3 separate regions of the Homo sapiens genome follow, and regions 1 and 2 are each linked to region 3. Evidence: fine-mapped expression QTL. A gene starts in region 3. Each other region holds a variant in brackets. All regions are shown on one strand. Distances are between the middles of the regions. Region 1 has its middle 16 kb from the start of CYP4X1. Region 2 has its middle 95 kb from the start of LINC01738. Region 3 holds the start of LINC00853 (long intergenic non-protein coding RNA 853).

Region 1 (4,238 bases), 170 kb after region 3:
ATTCTGGTATGTTGTGTCTTTGGTCTCGTTGGTTTCAAAGAACATCTTTATTTCTGCCTTCATTTCTTTATGTACCAGGTAGTCATTCAGGAGCAGGTTGTTCAGTTTCCATGTAGTTGAGCGGTTTTGAGTGAGTTTCTTAATCCTGAGTTCTAGTTTGATTGCACTGTGGTCTGAGAGACAGTTTGTTATAATTTCTGTTCTTTTTGAGGAGTGCTTTACTGCCAACTATGTGGTCAATTTTGGAATAGGTGTGGTGTGGTGCTGAAAAGAATGTATATTCTGTTGATCTTGGGTGGAGAGTTCTGTAGATGTCTATTAGATCCACTTGGTGCAGAGCTGAGTTCAATTCCTGGATATCCTTGTTAACTTTCTGTTTCGTTGATCTGTCTAATGTTCACAGTGGGGTGTTAAAGTCTCCCATTATTGTGTGGGAGTCTAAGTCTCTTTGTAGGTCTCTAAGGACTTGCTTTATGAATCTGGGTGCTCCTGTATTGAGTGCATATATATTTAGGATAGTTAGCTCTTCTTGTTGTATTGATCCCTTTACCATTATGTAATGGCCTTCTTTGTGTCTTTTGATTTTTGTTGGTTTAAAGTCTGTTTTATCAGAGACTAGGATTGCAACCCCTGCCTTTTTGTTTCCATTTGTTTGGTAGATCTTCCTCCATCCCTTTATTTTGAGCCTATGTGTGTCTCTGCACATGAGATGGGTTTCCTGAATACAGCACACTGATGGGTCTTGACTCTTTATCCAATTTGCCAGTCTGTGTCTTTTAATTGGAGCATTTAGCCCATTTACATTTAAGGTTAATATTGTTATGTGTGAATTTGATCCTGTCATTATGATGTTAGCTGTTTATTTTGCTCATTAGTTGATGCAGTTTTTTCCTGCCCTTGATGGTCTTTACAATGTGGCATGTTTTTGCAGTGGCTGGTACTGGTTGTTCCTTTCCATGTTTAGTGCTTCCTTCAGGAGCTCTTGTAAGGCAGGCCTGCTGGTGACAAAATCTCTCAGCATTTGCTTGTCTGTAAAGTATTTTATTTCTCCTTCACTTATGAAGTTTAGTTTGGCTGGATATGAAATTCTGGGTTGAAAATTCTTTTCTTTAAGAATGTTGAATATTGGCCCCCACTCTCTTCTGGCTTGTAGAGTTTGTGCCGAGAGATCAGCTGTTAGTCTGATGGGCTTCCCTTTGTGGGTAACCCGACCTTTCTCTCTGGCTGCCCTTAACCTTTTTTCCTTCATTGCAACTTTGGTGAATCTGACAATTATGTGTCTTGGAGTTGCTCTTCTCGAGGAGTATCTTTGTGGCATTCTCTGTATTTCCTGAATCTGAATGTTGGCCTGCCTTGCTAGATTGGGGAAGTTCTCCTGGATAATATCCTGAAGAGTGTTTTCCAACTTGGTTCCCTTCTCCCCATCACTTTCAGGTACACCAATCATACATAGATTCAGTCTTTTCACATAGTCCCATATTTCTTGGAGGCTTTGTTCATTTCTTTTTATTCTTTTTTCTCTAAACTTCTCACTTCATTTCATTCATTTGATGTTCCATCACTGATACCCTTTCTTCCAGTTGATCGAATTGGCTACTGAGGCTTGTGCATTCATCACGTAGTTCTCGTGCCATGGTTTTCGGCTCCGTCAGGTCCTTTAAGGACTTCCCTGCATTGGGTTATTCTAGTTAGCCATTCGTCTAATTTTTTTTCAAGGTTTTTAACTTCTTTGCCATGGGTTTGAACTTCCTCCTTTAGCTTGGAGTAGTTTGATCATCTGAAGCCTTCTTCTCTCAACTCGTCAAAGTCATTCTCCGTCCAGCTTTGTTCCATTGCTGGTGAGGAGCTGTGTTCCTTTGGAAGAGGAGAGGCACTCTGATTTTTAGAGTTTCCAGTTTTGCTGCTTTGTTTTTTCCCCATCTTTGTGGTTTTATCTACCTTTGGTCTTTGATCATGGTGACGTACAGATGGGGTTTTGATGTGGATGTCCTTTCTGTTTGTTGGTTTTCCTTCTAACAGTCAGGACCCTCAGCTGCAGGTCTGTTG[G/T]TGTTTGCTGGAGGTCCACTCCAGACCCTGTTTGCCTGGGTATCAGCAGCGGTGGCTGCAGAACAGCGGATGTTGGTGAACAGCAAATGTTGCTGCCGGATCGTTTGCCTGGAAATTTTGTCTCAGAGGAGTACCTGGCCGTGTGAGGTGTCAGTCTGCCCCTACTGGAGGGTGCCTCCCAGTTAGGCTACTCGGGGTTTAGGGACCCACCTGAGGAGGCAGTCTGTCTGTTCTCAGATCTCCAGCTGCGTGCTGGGAGAACTACTACTCTCTTCAAAGCTGTCAGACAGGGACATTTAAGTCTGCAGAGGTTTCTGCTGCCTTTTGTTTGGCTATGCCCTGCCCCAGTGGTGGAGTCTACAGAGGCAGGCAGGTCTCCTTGAGCTGTGGTGGGCTCCACCCAGTTTGAGCTTCCCAGCCGCTTTGTTTACCTACTCAAGCCTCGGCAGTTTTGGGTGCCCTCCCCCAGCCTCGCTGCCGCCTTGCAGTTTGATCTGACTGCTGTGCTAGCAATGAGCGAGGCTCCGTGAGCATAGGACCCTCCAAGCCAGTCGCAGGATATAATCTCCTGGTGTGCCGTTTGCTAAGACCATTGGAAAAGCACAGTATTAGGGTGTGTGTGACCCAATTTTCCAGGTGCCGTCTGTCACCCCTTTCTTTGACTATGAAAGGGAATTCCCTGACCCCTTGCACTTCCTGGGTGACGCGATGACTCACCCTGCTTTGGCTCATGCTCAGTGTGTTGCATCCACTGTCCTGAACCCACTCTCTGACACTCCCCAGTGAGATGAACCCGGTACCTCAGTTGAAAATGCAGAAATCACCCATCTTCTGCATCACTCACACTGGGAGCTGTAGACTGGAGCTGTTCCTATTCGGCCATCTTGGCTCCACCTCTCTTAGATAACTTCTGAATCAGACAAAGTTATTCTTTTTCTCACTAATAACATAACGCTTTCTGGGACATTTTGTATACAGAATTATGTGTCTACTAGAATTCTTATGCTTGGTAACCTAAAACTTTAGTGAAATCCCAAAAAGCAAGAAATCCTGAACTATCAGATGTGGGCACTTATAGATAAGAACAATTCCACAGTTTTTAGAACCATATTTCCTTATATCACAAACCTTTCTTCATTGGAAATGACCCAGATATTAAATGAGGATCAAAAATAATTTTAAGATTTTAATTTACACAAAAAGTTTATGTAAAACATTTACCCCATTCACTGGACTCGATTCTTTCACTTTTAACAGTTTATCTAGATTACTTCTGTAAACTGAGATATTAGACACTATCATTTTAAAGTTAGTGATTCCCTTGTTAACCATGTTTCTAATAGCCAGTGAACATCAGGTGCTCACCTAAACCTAAGTACATGTCTCAAAGTTAAATACATAGGTATTTTTGCCAATAACTCAGGAGATTTAGCTAACATTAAATTACTCTCATTTGTCAAAAAAGGCACACAAGTCAAATCATTTTGTTTTGACTGGGCTTATAGTTTTATAACTTTCTATGCCAAACACTGACATCTCAAAATGTCTAGCAAAGACAAATATAAAATTCAGACAAAATGTATGCTGACAATTCTGAAGGCATTTCTGGTTTTGTTCCACCGATAATTTTAAAGCCAGCTTTTTTAGTAAAGTTATACTTAAGTTACCTGAACTTGAAAATTGCTTACACTTAATCATTTAATATATGACCACTCTTTTACTTATAAGCCAATTTGCTAGTCACAACATATAACAATAAGTGTACATACAAATAAACACATCTAGACTTGTATACACACATATAAATGAAGATCCAATAGCTTGGAATGCTAGCCATGAGATAGCAATAAAGCTCACCGGCTTTACTTTGCCCCAATAGATAATCCAATAAAGACTGTGATCCAAAATTTTGGGTAAAGCAGTCTCCATGGCAGTTTGATTTTTAAAGGCCAAACCCCCAGACTCCAAAGAGCACTGGGGCCAAACATCACCAAAGGAGAGCATCACACATTAACCAAGCCCCCTGCTTGGGACAGCAGCACCTAAGTCTGGATACATGCAACACCATCCCACTTTCCCATTCAATGGTAAACTCTAGATTCCAAGCAATATTGAGGCCAAACAGTATTGCAACTCCAAGAGAAAATTCTAAGGACTGCTTAGTACTAGACCTCAGAACCTCTTCTGAGTGC
Region 2 (4,238 bases), 410 kb before region 3:
TCTGGCAGCCCTCAGCTGTCAAGTGGGAGCAGGACAGAAATGCAAATTCTTGAACCCCCATCCCAGACCTACTGAATCAAAATTTCCTAGGTGGAGTACAGCAATCTGTTTTCACAAGCCCTCCAGGTGATGCACACTAAAGTTTAAGAAGCACTGTTCTATATTACCTCCTATTATATTATCTCTATTTATCATCATTTTCCAGAAGCAGCAGCTGAGGCTATAGCAGGTTAAGGAACTTGCCCAAGGTTTTAAAGCAAGGAAGCAATGAAAGCAAAATTCAAACATGGGTGTAGCTGACTCTTCCCTCGCCCATCTGGGGGTGTTGAGTTCCTTGGCCTAAAGGAGAGCTACTGGAAGCTGGAAACCCCTGCTTGTGGAGGGGCTTCCTGTCTAAGGTGGTCTTAGTCCATTTTACATTCCTATAAAGGAATACTTGAAGCTTGATAATTTATAAAGTAAAGAGGTTTGCTTGGCTTACAGTTCTGCAGGCTATTCAAGAAGTATGGCACCGGCACCTGCTTCTGGTGAGGGCTGAGGAAGCTTCCAATCATGGCAGAAGGTGAAGGGGGAGCAGGTGTGTCACATAGAAAGAGATAGAGCAAGAAAGTGGGGCGGGGGTGCCAGGCTCTTTTAAACAACCAGCTCTCCAGTGAACTAACAGTAATGCACTCATTACTTCAGGGACAGCAACAAGCCATTCATGAGGGACTCACCTCCATGACCCAAACACCTCCCATTAGGCCCCACCACCAACACTGGGGATCAAATTTCAACATGAGATTTGGAGGGGACAAATACCCAAACTATATCAGGTGGCAAACCAGTGGCCTCAGCCCCAGCTTATGACTTGAAGTTTAAACTCTAAGGCTCAACCCAGGAGTTCTACTGTGGATGAGTTGGTAAGTGATGAGGTCTGGTGGGGACACATGCTGTGGAGAGAAGAGAGGGCCAGAGCCAGCTCTTGGAGAGTACCCACTTCGGCTCCTGCCAGCTGCCCTCGGCAGTACCTGCCCACATGCTCCCCTCCCTGGAAGACCACCGCACCTGCCAGATGCCAAGGATGAACCTGGTCTAACCCCCCAGACTCGAGCTACCCAAGTATATGGCTGGTCTTACTCTTCTCTGACCCCATTGCCCAGCTGAGGGCCTGGCTGATTGTCTGTGAAGCTGCATGGTCAAGTGAAGCAAGGAATAAACCACTCCTTTCTGGCAGATTGACTAGGAAAGGCACCAGGCAAGGCCTTGCAGACCTTAAGTTGCATAAATATGTGGGCAAGCAGGAGGTTGTGGGAAATGTGTTCCTGGTGACAGCTACAGACTGAGGAAAAGCATGGCAGTAGGAGAACGTGGAGTGTGTTGTTCCAGCCTCTCTCTAGTGCTTTTGAGGTAAGAGCATGAAAGGTGGATTTGGAAGCCATCATAGAAGGCCTGTACTGTCAATAGAGGGATTTGGGTTATTCTATAGGTACTAGGGAGCCATGGAAGGCATTAGAACAGGAGAGTGATGGGATCATATGGAGTATTGGGCTGTAGAGGGATTGAGCAGAACCCCTGTGCCCTGAAGCCTATTCTGCGCCAAGCACTGCACCTACTGCTTCCTGAGTACACCCTCATCTTAGAACTGAGGCTCAAGGTGTCTGCTCAAGGGAGCACAGCTAGTAAGCAGCAAAGCAGAATTTGCACCAAGATCTGTATGACTCCAGAGCGCAGGCCCTGGCTCCTCCACTACTGCTCAATCTCTGTCTGAGCTGTCTCCAGGGTTTGACTCCTGGGTGGGAGCGGGGCTTGGAGGTTTCCTGCCTCTGCCTAGAGTATAAAGTCAGTGCTGGGACCCTGGACCTTCATGGGGACTCCCATGGGGTAAGCCTGGGGCTTAGGGGTGCAGGCAGGTGGAAAAGATGCCCAGGAGAGGAGGGTGTGGGCCTGAAGGGCAGAGTTTGGCTGGGAGGCAAAGCCTGTCCCCAAAGCCCTTGCCAGGACTCCTGACCTGAGCTCTGAACCCTGGGCTTGGAGGGCCACCTCTCTGCATGGGAGTGCAACGGGGTTGGCGGGGTTGGCGGGCCTGGAGCTGGGGGCCGAGGGGCGGGGTCGGGGTGGGGGAATGGGGTGGGGGG[T/GT]GTCCAGGGCAGCAAGCTCTAGAAGGCAAAGCGTGGGATCGGGTGAACCCAGTATCCCCCTTTCAGATGGACCAGAGACCTCCAAAATGTCTTTGATTCCACGAGATCTTAGAAACAGGGAGAGAAAACGAGAGACAGACTGAGCCCCACCAAGACAGAGAGGACGAGAGAGAGCCCCGCGGGGCGGGGGGAGACAGAGAGAGGTCCCGCGCCCCGTGGGCGCTCCAGGCCCGCGCAGCCTTGCTCGCTCTGCACGCAGCCACCGCGGTCCAGCCAGGGCGGCAAACTGGAAACAGCTGCGGAGGTTTTGGGTTTCCGCCCGGCCTCCCCCTAGCCCCTGGCTCTGGCCCACCCGAGCAGTTCCCCCTTAATCCCGCTCTCTCGGGAAGCTGTGCTGTGAAAATCCTCCGCCCTGCTCTGAGAGGTCAGCCCCGGGCTGGCGGCGGCGGGCCGCGGAGCAGGAGGTGCGGGCCCCGGCGCTGCAGACCCTGCGGAGACGGCCCCCTCTACTGCAGGCGCCGCCTCATCTAATAAGCGGGGCTGATAACGCCTTCCGCGCAAGACCGCTGGGAGACCTTCCCTGGCACCTGGCAGACGCGCGCAGAACCTTCACCAGTCCGGTTTTGCCAGGATGCTCCACTCACTGAGCGCCTTTTTCTAATTGTTCTAATTCGCACGAACAAGTCCTAAGGGCTAGTGGCAGCCCTGCCTCCCCTTCCCCCTCTCTCTCCCAGAGCCTGGGGATGAAGTCTGTGCCCAGCCAGTTACCTGGGGCATAGACTCAGTAGCCCCAGGGGATCAGTCCCCAGTCCAGTTCCTCTAGCACTTCCTGATGCCCTCCCCGTGCGCCAGCCCTTCACTGAATCCCACTCAGCACCTGCGCTCAGGAGCTGGGAGATAAAATTACTTTCAATGGGTCACAGGACTTTGCCTCTGAAGCTGGGAGATCAGACAGGCCTCATCGTTCCCTTTGATCTTGAGAGGGCATCCAGGCTCATCCATTCGGCACCCAGAGTGGGCAAGGGGCTTACTCAAGATCACCAGCAGGTCTGCGACAGGCCCACGACTCCTGAGTTCCAGTCCAGGTTTTGTTTCATTTTATTTTGAGCACTGTGCCAGCTCCAAAAACTGCTCACCTGGCAAGGTTTTCCTAGCCTCTTTGCCCCAGTCCTGGGCTCAGCTACAATAGGGAGCACACAGGTCAGGGCAGCAGGTGCAGCAGGCAGAGGCCTTGGCGGGGAGGCAGCTACAGCACTGGCCTGTTCAGCCCCGACGGCATTGCAGGCGCTGCAGGTGAGCTGTAGCTGGGCAGCAGGATCTCCGAGGGCCTCTGCGGCCCAGATGCTCGATCCCCTGAAAAGGGCTTCTGGGTTCTGAGCTGGCCCCTCACTGCCAGCTCTCAGTGCCCCTCCTTCCTGCCGCCCACTTCAAAGGAAGAAAACCCTTGGGAAGACTTGGAGTCACCGGGAAGCAGGTGTGCTCCACCAGGCCTCCCTGCCTCTACATGCTGCTGGCTGTGCACACACAACACAGAATCTCACGCACACACACCATGCAGTTACACACGCAAACACACTTTCACCTCACAGACCCACACGCACATTACACACACAACACAGTTACACACGCACACTCACCTTCACCTCAGACTCACACACACTACACACACAACACAGTTATGCACACTCACCTTCATCTCAGACTCTCTCACACACTACACACACAACACACAGTTACACACGCACACTCACCTTCATCTCATAGACACACACACTACACACACACAACACACAGTTGTGCACACTCACCTTCATCTCATAGACTCACACACTACACAGAGTGACACATGCACCTCACCTTCTCATAGACTCACACACACAACACAGTTACACACGCACATGCGCACTCACCTTCACCTCACAGACACACACAACACGCACAACACAGTTACACACGCACACTCACCTTCATCTCATAGACTCATACACAACACACAGTTACACACGCACACTCACCTTCACCTCATAGACACACACAACACAGTTACACACGCACACTCACCATCTCATAGACACACACTACACACACACAACAGTTACACATGCACACTCACCTTCACCT
Region 3 (4,238 bases):
CCCACCTGCCAGCCTGGCCAGATCGGGGAGGGAAAGGAGGCTGGGCCCGGGCCAGGGTGGCGCTTAATGACCCTCCGGGGGCCTAATCTCAGACTGGCAGCCACGGAGTGGCTCAGGCGCGCTCCTGGAGAAGGCTGATAACGCACCAGCTGGGCCCCCACCATCTATCGCTGCACAGCCAGTCCCAGGGGCAGCCTCCCAGGGCCTGGGGAGGGGGAGCCTCTGGACTAGGGCGGGGCTGGAGGCGAGCTCTCCACCCCCAGCCCTGAGGGAGGGGATCCTGAGCTTCGTGATTGGCAGACAAGGGAGAGACCCAGCCTGCAGGAGGGGTGGGCTGGGCCTGGTGGGAACCTCCAGACACCTGTGCTCCTTCTCTCTTTCCTGCTCTCTTCCCAACCTTTTCTCCCCACGTAGGACCTCTCCTGCCCAGGCCTGTCTCCTCTTTGTCTCTCCCAGCCTCCATCCATCTCTGTCTCCCTGTTTCTCAGTCTCTCCACCTCTGTTTTTGTCTCATCCTCTGCCTCTCTCTCTCCTGTTTGCCTTTCTCCTCCTCCACCTGAGCTCAGTGCCCACCTCCTCTTTCTCTCTTGCATCCCTTTTCAGTTTCCAGCTGGTTCTCTTGGTTGTCCCCTTCCCAGCTGTCCCCTGCCTCCTAAGCTTCCTTGATGTCAACCCTTGGCCGGGCAGTTCCCACGATCTCATTGGTCTCACTTCTGTGTGTGGTATCATCTCTCTGTGGTCCCTTCCACCAGCTATCTGCCAGGATTGCAGGCTGCCTCAAGCCCTGGCTCTCAGCCCAGAATGTCCTCTTACTGTTGAGGACATTTTTGCTCTTCCTGGAACAGGGCTTGCACCTTGTTTTCCCCTCTCCCACCTAAAACATGTAAGTTTCATAGGGTTACATTATAGGTTATACCCAAACTCAGGCAGAAAAGAAAAGCCTCCACCCAGCAACTGCACAGTTGAGGGAAGACTGCAGCACTGCTTACTTCATTTAGACTTGAAGAGGAACTTCCAGCCAGGAGTTGGCTTTGAAAACAGGCTGTGGAGTTCCGTCTCCAGAGTGCCAGGTGGTCAAGGGGAGTTTCAAGATTACTGCCGTCATACTCAGAGTGACACATGCAGAAATACTATCTGTTTATTGTGCTTCAAGGATCCATTAGATCAGGACTATTGCTGGGCAAAGCCTCTTCCCGCAGCCTAGGGGTAGTAAAGGTGGGGGTAGAGGTGCTGGGGCTGGGGCCAGAATCACACACAGTCTGCTCTGGCCTCTACCCACCTTCACAGGGAAGTCAGGTGGCTGAAGCCAGCAGAACTTGCTCTGGGACCAGGGTGGAGGCACCTGCCTCCCATCCAGACCTGGCTGGAGGGTCTTGACTCCCTAGCTTGGCTCTCCTCCCAGGGTTTTTTTTTTTTTTTTTTTTTGTCCCTGGCAGTGCAGGGGTGGCCAAAAGCTTGAGCTTGGGAATCATGCCGATTGGTTCAAATTCCAGCCTGCTCCTCGATGCTTGTGGGATCGCCTAGCCTTTCAGATCTTCCATTCCTTTGCCGGTAAAATTGGCTCTATAGTACATTCCTTGCAGGGCTGCTGGGAGGAAACAGAGATGACATCCGTGTTATTATTGCTCCTGAGACTTGCCAGAAAGCCCTCCATGATCAGCGTAGATGCCATTTCTTCCCAGATGCTCCTTTCCCCACTCCTGGGTTCAGCACTTCCTCCGGGCAACTTCAGCCCCTGCTCCTCCCTCTCTTTGCACCCGCCCCACCTGCCCCACTCACTCCACCCACCCCAGGGTGCTGTCTACTTGTCTGCATCCTGCTCCTGCCCTGGGTCTGGGAGCTCCTCAAGGGCAGGAATGGAGTGACTTCCCTCTCTGTGCACCCAGGACAGGGCTGGACAGGAGAAGGGAAGCCCAAGGAGTGGTGAAGAGCCCCGAAGGAAGGGACTAAACTCCAGCCATCTGTCCCGCGGTGTCTGTTCATACTCCTCCTCCGTGCACGGGCTCAGACATACATATGCGCATATGCTCTGTCTCTTTCTGGTTGAAGGTCCTGGGAGCCCTCCGGAACTCTGCTGCCTGGCAGTCCTTCAGTTTCGGGAGCTTTTCTGTCTGCCCGTGGCCTCGGCTGCCACCTGGTGGCTGCACGCTCCAAAGGAAGCGTAGATTGATGAGAGCCTCGGAAGTTGAGCTTCAGGCGCGGCTCTTCCCCGTCACACTGGGACCGGACGCATTTCCATGGCGTGGTCCCAGGAACCTCTCAGGTCATGCCAGCAACTGGGACTTCCTGTGGAATGCAAGGGCAGTGGGGCCTCCGCGAGAGAGAGAGAGAGAGAGAGAGAGAGAAGAGAGAGATATTAAGGATGAATCCCAGTGTCTGCTCTGAGCAAATTGGAAGACGATGGCATCAGGGGCACTGCTCTGGGCTATATAGACTGTGCCTCCACTAAAGGGTCCCTGAGACCAGGTGTGGGCCCGTATCCCTGGAGGGAGAGGTAACTTCCTCTGATTCGAAGGCATCATATAGGCTAGTGAATGGCACTGAGAATGGCAGATGCCAGGGACAAGCAGGAGCATGTGTGGGATGAGGATGCGGCGTGGATGTGTGACGTTTCAGAGCCTGCAACACATCCGTAGGGAAGTCCTGGAGGAGCAGTTGGGTGCATGGTGGAGTTCTGAAACAGCTGGGCAGTCGGCACTTGAGCCAGAGATTCTGCTTTCGACCTGGATGCCCATTGAGAGGTTAAGAGCTCAGGTCTGGGTCAGGCAGCTTGGAAGCAGCACAGCTTGGACACTTGGTAGCCTGGGACTGTGGTTAAATCAACGTGACTCTCGGAGCTCCAGTTCACTGTAAATTAGGGCAGTAAATGATGTCTACATGATAAGTGGTGTTATGAATGTTAAACATTCACATGAAATACATAGAATAGTGCTTAGCATACAGTACACAATAACTGTTAGCTATTTGGAAAATTACTATTGTTATTATGATTATTTATTACAGAGTGAACTGAATTGGATGCAAGATCACGGTGCGTCAGAGCTAGCAAGATCCTTAGGATCATTTAGCCTGGTTTACTAATATTACACTATGGAATTTAAGCCCAAGGAATGGAGAGTACCCGACGAGCGTTATGTAAGGAGTCGAGTGAGAAGTAAGCTGGATGCTCTGCTTGGCTGGCAGGTACAGAATGTGCCAGACCCATCTGTACCAGCCTGGATCTCTTGAGGCATCAGCACAATGGACCTGGCCACACCAGTTTATTCCACACCGCTGAGGCTGGTACAGTTCTGGACATGGACTTTGTAAATAAATAACTGGGCCTTTGGTCAGTTCTAGCTGTGAGCTTGGAGGTATGGGGTGGGATGGTGAGGACAGGTGGGGGCAAAGTGAGGAAAGGGGCAGGGAGGAGAGGGGAGAGAGAAAAAGGGGAATGAGACAGGCTGAGCTAGTGAGCTGGAATTGGAGGTTGGGAACAGGCTTTCCTTGATGGTGGTGGTGCTGTTTTCTTTTTAATTTTAATTTAATTTTATTTTAAGTTCCAGGCTACATGTGCAGGATGTACAGGTTTGTTACATAGGTAAAAACATGGTGGTTTGCTGCAACTGTCAACCCATCACCTAGATATTAAGCCCAGCATGCATTAGCTATTTATCCTGATGCTCTCCCCACCCCTGCCCCAACAGGCCCCACTGTATGTTGTTCCCCTCTTTTTTGTTCACTTAAAAGATCCCACTTTTAAGTGAGAGTATGCAGTGTTTGGTTTTCTGTTCCTGTGTTACTTTGCTGAGGATAATGGCCTCCAGCTCCATCCATGTCCCTGCAAAGTACATGATCTCATTCCTTTTTATGTCTGCATAGTATTCCATGGTATATATGTACCATATTTTCCTTATCTAGTCTATCATTTATGGGCATTTGGGTTGATTCCATGTCTTTGCTACTGTGAATAGTGCTGCAATGAACATATGCTTGCATGTATCATTATTTTTTTATTTTTTTTGAGATGGAGTCTTACTCCCTCACCCAGGCTGGAGTGCAATGGTGCAATCTCTGCTCACTGCAACCTCCTCCTCCCGGGTTCAAGCAATTCTCGTGCCTCAGCCTCCCGAGTAGCTGGGACTACAGGTGCCTGCCACCACACCCGGCTAATTTTTTTGTTTTTTTGTATTTTTAGTAGAGACGGGGTTTTACCATGTTGTTCAGGCTGGTCTCGAACTCCTATCCTCAGATGATCC

The links. PIP is the estimated chance that this variant, and not a neighbour inherited with it, causes the effect.
Region 1: its variant is fine-mapped to the expression of LINC00853 in whole blood (INTERVAL, PIP above 0.99).
Region 2: its variant is fine-mapped to the expression of LINC00853 in whole blood (INTERVAL, PIP above 0.99).

Annotation. Positions count from the first base shown.
Region 1 is chr1:47,005,152-47,009,389 of GRCh38, reverse strand. It overlaps a transcript of CYP4X1 not described here. Among named protein-coding and RNA genes, the nearest start is that of CYP4X1, 16 kb to the left of the region's middle. The variant G/T (reference allele first, on the strand shown) is at 2,047.
Region 2 is chr1:47,591,602-47,595,839 of GRCh38, reverse strand. No RefSeq gene overlaps it. Among named protein-coding and RNA genes, the nearest start is that of LINC01738, 95 kb to the left of the region's middle. The variant T/GT (reference allele first, on the strand shown) is at 2,118.
Region 3 is chr1:47,177,215-47,181,452 of GRCh38, reverse strand. LINC00853 (long intergenic non-protein coding RNA 853) reads right to left here and starts at 2,203. Exons shown (of 2, transcript NR_047498.1): 1 at 2,015-2,203; 2 at 1,114-1,585. CYP4A22-AS1 (CYP4A22 antisense RNA 1) reads left to right here and starts at 1,830. Exons shown (of 6, transcript NR_199717.1): 1 at 1,830-2,263; 2 at 3,004-3,328. RefSeq lists a cis regulatory region at 125-142 and enhancers at 61-205, 1,831-2,332.